Regions from separate parts of the Homo sapiens genome. Here region 1 is linked to region 2. Evidence: fine-mapped expression QTL. A gene starts in region 2. The other region holds a variant in brackets. All regions are shown on one strand. Distances are between the middles of the regions.

Region 1 (4,388 bases), 54 kb before region 2:
GCACGTAAGACAAATCTTGCCACTAAGATGAAGAATAAATGCCAGAACCAGAGAAACTGGTGCCTAGAGAGGTTAAATTACTCATTACAAATGAAGGGCTGATGGGGGAAGTGGAATTAGGCATTTAGCTGCTGGCTTCTTTCACTAATTCTGTGTCTATGTGCTGAAGGCTCAGGTATGATATTGATAAACTACAGTGTTTCTACAGAACACAGTGAACTTGAGCCACAGACTCCTAATATTCCCTCTTATAACAGCACTATGGGTTTTTTTCCTTTATTACTTTACATAATTGCAATTTAAAATGTTTCCATTGTTCCAGGTGATATGGAGTCACTGTGCACTGTTACTCCACATCACCTGGAACTACAGCAAAACAAGAAAGCCCAAATTAAATGCAGAAATCACCTGTTTGAAGGCAGTGGTGGGCTGTCAAGGCTAAGAGAATCGGAGGGGCTAAGACTTGAGAGAGCAGAGAGGTGAGCTGATGGCAGAGCCGAGAATCTGAGGACAGAGAAGCCAGAGAACTTCTAAAAGAGACCTGAAGGGTTTCAAACACACAGTTGGCTTTCCCTTCAAAGCATGTGCTGAATTGGGGGTATATAAGGAGTGGAGGTTGAAAAACAGAAGTAGAAAGCCTCTGAAAATCATCAGAGTTTCTGGCAGTCTCAGGAGATGAAAATAGGAACTCAGGACCTGCCAAGGAAGGGATCCCAGTGAAGACACCAGGTTCTCCGTTGGGCCAAGGATAGACAGTAACCTGGCCTCACTGCCACACCAAAAACTAAATCAAGATGGATCATGACCTAAATGCAAAAGATAAAACAATAAAACTCCTAAAGAAAACAGGAAAAGATCTTCATAATCTTGGAGTGAAATTTCTTTTTTTTCCTCCCAGTTTTAAAAACAGCATACTCTACTTTGCTTCAAAAGCATTTCAACATTCTGAGAGAACTCAAATCTATGTATTAAGAGTAGGATGTAGGTTGCCTCTGGGGAGAAGGGGCAGCTGGAGCTTCAAGGAGCGTGCATGGGGGCTTGTCATCACGGGTGGTTGTCACCCAGGTGTGTTCATTTTGTGGAACTTCACAGTGCTCTATGCCTCCTCTATGCGTTCTTCTGTGCTATGCTGTGCCTCAATAAAAACATTAATAGGAAAGGGAGTCTTAGCGTTCTAATGATACCAAAAAAATAACAGAATGTTGCAAAGTGTGTGCTTGAGGTCAGAAGGCTTATGCACCTTCCTTGAAGCAGTACCTATGCAGTTTTCTGACAACGAAGACCTCTACAGTTTGTTTTCAAACTACTAGATTTAATTAAAAATAATCAGAACACTTCCCATGCCAGCCAGTGCCCCTTTTCCACAGCTAAGAATGTCAGCAGAATGTTATGTCACTGTATAGAAAAACAAGACAGCCGGAAGCAGTGTAAAGAGGTTTAGCCTCATCCTTGAGCTACAGCCCCCTCCAAAAAGTGCCACCTTCTACAGCATTACACCACCAAGCACAGACCATAAAAAGTCATCTAGTTTGTTTTGTTCTTTTTACAAATTACAGCTGATGTACAGTTGATAACTCAAGACTTCTAATCAATAACACTACCTTACACATAAGTTTTTTTTTTTTTAATTTCAGGAACATTTTTAATTGCCTTCTCTCACAGATCTCTAAATTCATGGAGTGAGGATAACAAAAGAGTTTCTTTTCATTTTAAAAATGTTTAGAAATATGGACAACTTTGATTGAATTTCTGGGTGCTTGTGACACCCATGAACACAACATAGAAACCACTTGCATTTCCTGGAGCGCTTCAAAAACTACAGTGTAATTATATTTCAATTGCGGAATGAAACCCAGTGAGAACAACAGACTCTCAAATAGGAGGTGGTCAGTTACTGCAGTTGTCCTGTATACATACACATGGAGACAGACATGCAGTTTTCCTCATTATTCTCTTTTGCATCCTCTTTTTCCCTTTCTCATACTCCTCACCTTACTCTTCCATCTTTTTTTCTGGTGTGTGCTAGATGATCTCTTTATTCCATCTGTATCAGGCAGTTCTTGCACTGCTATAAGGAAATACCTGAGACTGAGTAATTTATGAGAAAAGAGGTTTAATTGGCTCACAGTTCAGCAGGCTATACAGGAAGCATAGTGGCATCTGCTTCTGGGGGGGTCCTCAGGAAGCTTCCAGTCATGGCGGAAGGCAAAAGAGAAGCAGACGCTTCACATGGCAAGAATGGGAGCAAGAGAGAGA[G/A]CATGGGTTACAGGGGAGCTGCCGCAAACTTTTGAGCAAGCAGATCTTGTGTGAACTCAGAGTGAGAGCTCACTTATCACCAAGGGGATGGCCCAAGCTATTCATGAGGCATCCGCCCCCATGATCCAAACACCTCCCACCAGGCCTCTCCTCCAGCATTGGGGATTACAATTCCACATGAGATTTGGGTGAGGACAAATAGCCAAACTCTATCACCATCCCTTTGCTTTAGATTATAGTTGGCCACCTACTTCCCATACATCTCCTTCAACTTTGTTATAAGGTAGCTTTTCACCATCACTAAAATTATCCTGCATGTTTTATTTTTCTGTCACTGTATAACAAATTACCACACACTTAACAGCTTTTAACAAAGTCCAGCACGATGTCACCTGGTTCTCCTCTCAGGGAATCACAAGGCGGGAACCAAGCCATCAGCCAAGCTGGGTCCTCACCTGGAGGCTCTAAGTAGACATCACCTCCAGGCCCACACAGGTTGCTGGAAGAATTCAGTCCCTTGTGGTTGTAGGACTGAGGATCCTCTTTCCTTGATGCCTGTTGGCCAGGGCCTCTCTCAGGTCTTTTAAGGTTTCCTGAATTCCTTCTCAGGTGGGCCTGCTGCAACTTCAAGCCATAACCCCTTTACTCTTCAAATCTCTCTGACTTCTTCTGCCACCAGCTGGAGAAAGCTCTCTGCTTAAAAGGTCTCATGTGATTAAATTAGATCCTCCAAGATAATCTCCTATCTTAAGGAGATTACCTAACCCTGCCATGAAATATGATAACCACACTAGTGAGTGATGTCTCATCATATTCCCAGGTTCCTGGGATTAGGGGGAAATATCTTTATGGGGGCATTTTAGGAATTCTACATACATAACAGTCATCCAGGTTTTTGGCGACATCTCCGGTAGAAATGCCTAAATTTGTGGATTTACTATTGGGCAGAGATCTAAGTAGAAGAGGAAGGTGGGGCATGAGGGGAGGGTGTTATCATCTTTCTTCTTGCCTCCCTTAGTTGGTCTATAATCCTTTATTTCCTGCTCATAGTATACCACACCATTTCATCAAATTTGTATTTCTCTTTCACCACACATTGTATTCCACCTCTCAGTGTATTTCCACTTCTTGGAAACTGCAGTTTACAGAGGCCTCTGGATTATTATTTGTATTTTCCTCCCAGCATTGTCTTCATAAACAAGGCATGAGCAGACATCTTGCCTTTTGGTTTCTTGGGGTCACCTTTAGCTATCCTGACTGTGCTGTTTGTACTCTAGGCAACATAATGTACAACAGTTTCTCAGTGTTGCACTAGCTGTTTCCACAAGAACTGTCTCAGGCAAAGATTTCTTAAAACACAAAAAGCAATAACTGTGAAGGGGAAAAATATTGATCAATTGGACTGCATTAAAATTAAGAGCTTCAGTTCTCCAAAACCATTAAGAGAGTAAAAAGTCATACACTGAGAGAGAGATTTTCAAACATATATCTAACAAAGGACTATTATCTGGAATATTTAAAGCACTCCTTCAAATCAATGAGATACAGGAAAATAACTCGATAGAAAAATGGGCAAATGTCAGAATAGATACTGTATGAGAGAAGATGTTCAAACAGAAAATAAACATATGAAAAGGCACTCCATTAGTCATTAGGAAAGCACAGATGAAAATTAAGATGGAAAAATCCCAGTGACTCAGGAGAGGTTGAGCTGGGAGGACTGCAGTCCCAGTAACTCAGGAGGCTGAGGTGGCCTGAACCAAGGAGCTCGAGGCTGCTGTGAGCTATGATCACACCACTGCACTCCAGCCTGAGAAACAGAACAAGTCCCTGTCTCTGAAAAAAAAAATGTTTTTAATCATAATGCAAAAACTACAACATACCCTCCAAAATGACTAAAATGAAAAAGACAGACAATATAAAGCAACCAGAACTCTCTTATTCTGCTGACCAGAGTGTAAATTGTTACAACTACTTTGGAAAGCTGTTTGACAGTATCTACTAAAACTGAACATACCCATACCTTATACTCAGCAACTCCACTCCTAAAAATATGCCCAACAGAAATACATATGTATATCTAACAAATGGCATGAACAAGAATGTTAACAGCATTAATAGTAACATAAGCA
Region 2 (4,388 bases):
CCATCCACAGTCCAACACAGGTTAGTTAACCTCTGTGCAATGAATTCCCAGCCCCTGGGACCAGATGTGTCAGGATAGAGAGACAGACAGAGGGAGGGGGAAGATAGTAACAGCAACAAAACATTTTCCTACGAAACTTGCACACATCTCTCCAAGTCTAACAGGTGCAACTACAGTCTAGACATCCCCTCACAGTTCTCTGACAAACAAGTTTCCCCATAACATATGTCCCCAGAGCTACTCCCCTGTAGACCGGAGATGGCCTTTTCTTCAAGAACTCAACTTTCACTTAGCAAATAAAACCAATCCCTAGCAAGCCTCCCTCACACAGAACCATCTTAGGCTGTTCCTGTGGAAAATCCAATTGGGAAAAAAAGACCTCCAAACCATCACCTCCTCCAAGTGCAGACCTCCTCCAGGCTGGCCATCACCATCCAAGGGTGATCCCTGGGAGCTGAGAAAAGGTACATGCTTTAGTCGAATCCAGCTTGCCAGTCTCCGCAGCCACCAGCAACCAGTCCCACGCTGGCCTCTCCCCTCCCAGAGACCACAGCACCTGTTAGGTGCTTTTTCTTTCCCACCTCCAAAGCAACGCTTGCCCTTTCCTTTTGAATAATGTCCAACTGCAGAATCCTACAGGGGTGGCTTGTTTTGACTGCTGCGGCGGCCCTTATTTTTGTTAATGTTGATTACAATTTCTGCTGTGCTCAAACCTGTAGCACTCATAAAACATGCTTACACACGCGGGGGACAATTGGCGATGCTCCCTGCTGGCTGGAGCCAGGCCTGGGAGGCTCTTTGGGGGATCGATTTTCCGGGCAGGCCGGTCTGGCTGTCCCCTAACACGTATCTGTTTCTATAAATACCCACTACCCACGGGGAGGTGGGGGAAGGACAGAGATGTTTACCGGGTCAGGGAAGGGAACTCTGGGATGCAAGGACGAAAAATGAGGAAAGAAGGAAAGCAGCAAGGAGGAAGTTCCTAGGAAGAGGAGGTCATGGGTGGGCGAGCTCTGGAGGGGAAGTAAGGGGCCCACGCCACGAATCTTCCTTTGTGGCTGCAGCTTTGGGCTCGCCCAACTTAACCAGGGCGGCGTCGACGAGAGACCATCGGCCCGAGGCGTGGGGCTGCTTGTATCTCGACCCCTCTTCTCCCGGCGTCAGACCCCTCCAAGTCCGGGTGCTTCGGCCTGGGGCCCCTCCCGCCCCCACCGCCCGGGCCGCCCGCGGGCTGGGTCTCACCGTGTGGGCTGCGGCGGCAGCGTTGCTGGCCCGGAGAGGCGGCAGGGCGATGGGGGAGGGCGGGCCAGTCCCCACTCCGCTCCGGGTGGCCCCTGCACCGAGCCCCGGGGAAGCCTGAAGCTGACGAACGGCGCTGTCCCCACCTCGGCCTGGAAGCCACGTGCGGGAGGAGACAAAAGAGGGTCAGGGGGGAGAAAGTCACCCAGACCCCCCCTCCAACCCCGCTGGGCAGCGACAACCCTCTTCCAAAGAAAGACGGAGGAAGAGACCGGGGCAGTAAAAACGGGCGTTCGGGTCACGGCTCCCCAGCGCACACCCACGGGCGGGGCGCGGGCAGCTGCAAAGTTAAGTGGGGCCCTGGCGCGCGAGTTCGCGACCCGGCGGGGGAGCCGGGCCGCGCCGGGGCTAGGCGGCCCACGTTGCAGACGGCCAGCAGCCGGGAGGTGGGTTTGGACAGCTGAGCAGGGAGCCACGGCCACGCCAAGCCCCGGGCAGCGCAGGGCGGGGCGGCAGGCCTGGACGGTCCCCGCCCGGGCCCCCGGCAGGCAGAAGCCTCTTCGGGCCGAGGGCTCCCCGCGGAGGGGCCTTCGGGGCCGCGCACAACCCTGCATGGAGCCCGGGGCGCGTCGTCCGCCCGGGGGCTCCCCCGCGCCGCGCCGCCGACTTTGTTCGAGGTCCCGCAGGCAGCGGCCGCCCGCGCCACAGGGGCTGCCCAGGGCCGGCGGGGGTCCGGGGATGCGGCGCGGCGGCACGGCCTCCTTACCGGTCGGGTAGGCGGCGGGAGCGGCGGCCGAAGGTTTCCTGGTTAACATGGCCGCTGGAGAGGAAAATGCATTTCAGGGCTGCCGTCGCCGCCGCCGGTCCTGCTGCTACTTCTGGCGGCCGCCGCCGCCGCCTCCCGGCCGCCCCTCGCGCGGGTCCCCGGCGCCTCGTCGCCGCCTCGCGTCTGCTACAGCCAGACACACACAGTCCACTGCATCCCCTCGGCCGGGGCCCGCCGCCGCGAGCCCCCCGCTCTCCTCCTCGCCGCCGTCCTCCTCTTCCTCGGGCGGCTGCAGCACCCTCCGGCCCGTGCACATGCCTCGCCCTCCCCTGCGCGCCGCGGGCCTCCCCGTCTCCCTCACATAGGGGCGCGGGGAGCTGGAAGCGCTGCGAGGACCGAAGACCGCCTGGCTCGGGAGCCTCTCCCGGGCCCGCGCGCGCGCGCCCCCGCGCACTCACACACAGGCGCCGGCGCGCGGCCCCGCCCCCGCCGCCCTCCGCCGCCCTCCTCCGCCGCCGCAGGCCCCGCCCCCGGCTCCCCCGGCCGCGGCCACGCACACCCCACCCCCACCCAACCTCCCGCCCGGCTCCTCTCAGTCCCCCGGTTTGCGCGCAGCCGCCCCTCCGCTCCCCGGAAAACTCGGCGGCCTCCGCTCGCCCTCCTCCGCCCCCTCCGGCCATCTGCACTGCTTCCCTCGGCTCCACTCCGGCGACCTTTTCCCCTCCCCGGCCCCGCGGCGCCCCTTCTCTGCCCTACAGCTCAACCTACCGCTGCTGCCCTCCGGCCGAAAGCGCCGCAGAGACCCCTCCCCTGCCATGCGCACCCCTAAACATAAATGCATTTTCAGCTCTTCGAACTGAATGGCTGCTCACAGACAGTACTGCTTCCCCGTCCCCCCATTCTTGGTCCCAGCGACTTAGCCACTCCCCTCTCCCCAATTCATCATGTAGATAACTTAGTTGTGCGAGGGTCACCTCGGAGAGGCAAGTCCCGGGAGGGGCGGCCGCTGAGCTCGTTGACCCTGAGCAGGGGCGAAAGAGGGGGCTGCCCTCCCACCTCCACCACACACCCTCCCCGGTTTACTGACACCAAGTGACCGCTCGCCAGTCGCTAGGACAAGGGGAGGCAGAGAGGCGCGTGTGGACGGCAGCTGGGGAAGCAGTTGGCTGTGGGTTGCTAGGCAAAAATAAACATCAGAGACATCTCCTATTTCCTTACAACTCCGAGCCTTTCCCCTGCGCGGCCACTGGGAGAGACACACCTTCCTTTCAGCTCTGCGGTGAGGGAGCGACACCTCGAATTCCTCTCACCCCACCCGACACATCTCTTTCCCCCTTCCCTTCCAAGACACGTGGAGAATTTCCCTGCCTTTTTTATTCGCCATATACAACCTCTCTTTTCCTTGAAGACCAAAAAAAAATTGCTTTCCCGTCTCACATCCGCGCCTCGTCGTGCGTGGCACACAGTGCGCCTCTGTTCAAAGGTCACAGGTTTTGCCACTTCAACTGTGAGAGGAGGTGGGGTGGGAAAGCCCGACAAATCCCGGATGACGGGGCAGAGTTATGCCATGCACTTCCTTCTCGAGAGGTGCCTAGTTTCTGAAGTTCTCTTGGGGCCAGGGGTCCATTATGCTCTGCCCCGCCCGAGTATCTCTGGCTCCTGGCTGGACCTACTGTGCAGGCCCGAACTAGTGCAGACTCCAGTCGGAAGGGAGCCACCTCCTGCGGAGTTTCATCCACTCTACTGTTTGCAAATTGTCATAGCAACCTCCTACAGAGCGCATCCGCAGCTTTATACAAACGCCAAAAACTGTTTCAAGGTACAGTGTGACCCTCTCAGAGTCTCTGGGACTCCTAAAGAGGCCTCCAAGTTAGGGTCACTGGGAGAGGGAACCTGTGACAAAAAGAATTTTCCCTAGTATTACGTCCCTCCAAACAAAACAAAACAAAACAAAACAAAACAAAACACCCTTTCGGGGCCTTCTCCTAATAAAGTAGACCCACAGTAAAATAATCCAATAATATGCCTTTAGAGGAATCATGACCTGAACTGACCCTAGCAAGAAATATCCCCCTATGCTTGTCACTGGCGACCATCACATTTAAATCCACATGCGGAAGCATATTTAGTGTTTAGAATCGACTAAAAGAAAAGGGCTACTAAGTAGCAGAGATGACACTAGAACCGGTTTTCTGACTCCCAGTCTGATTTCACTATGACTTCCATCACACTACTTTCCTTACACTTTCAAGAAAGCTCACACCTCTTTTTTCTCCTTTCAAAACAATTATTTTCATACCATTTTCCTTTTTAAAATGAGTACTCCATACAACTGATGTTCAAATAAAAAAATGAAACAAAAAAATCAATTTTAATATAATAT

Direction of the effects. Positions count from the first base shown, and alleles are read on the strand shown. Sizes are in standard deviations (SD) of each study's normalised expression.
In carriers of allele G in region 1, the expression in monocytes after LPS of the gene that starts at base 2,443 in region 2 tends to be lower than with A alone (large effect, 1.0 SD a copy in Quach 2016).

What was found. PIP is the estimated chance that this variant, and not a neighbour inherited with it, causes the effect. A credible set is the group of variants that fine-mapping cannot tell apart.
Region 1: its variant is the best candidate, but not a certain one, in a credible set for the expression of DYRK2 in monocytes after LPS (Quach 2016, PIP 0.73).

What each region holds. Positions count from the first base shown.
Region 1 is chr12:67,700,907-67,705,294 of GRCh38, reverse strand. No RefSeq gene overlaps it. Among named protein-coding and RNA genes, the nearest start is that of LINC02421, 26 kb to the left of the region's middle. The variant G/A (reference allele first, on the strand shown) is at 2,257.
Region 2 is chr12:67,646,800-67,651,187 of GRCh38, reverse strand. DYRK2 (dual specificity tyrosine phosphorylation regulated kinase 2) reads right to left here and starts at 2,443. Exons shown (of 3, transcript NM_006482.3): 1 at 2,006-2,443; 2 at 1,243-1,391. The coding sequence starts at 2,054. RefSeq lists silencers at 1,051-1,440, 1,601-2,260, 2,271-2,570, 2,671-2,780.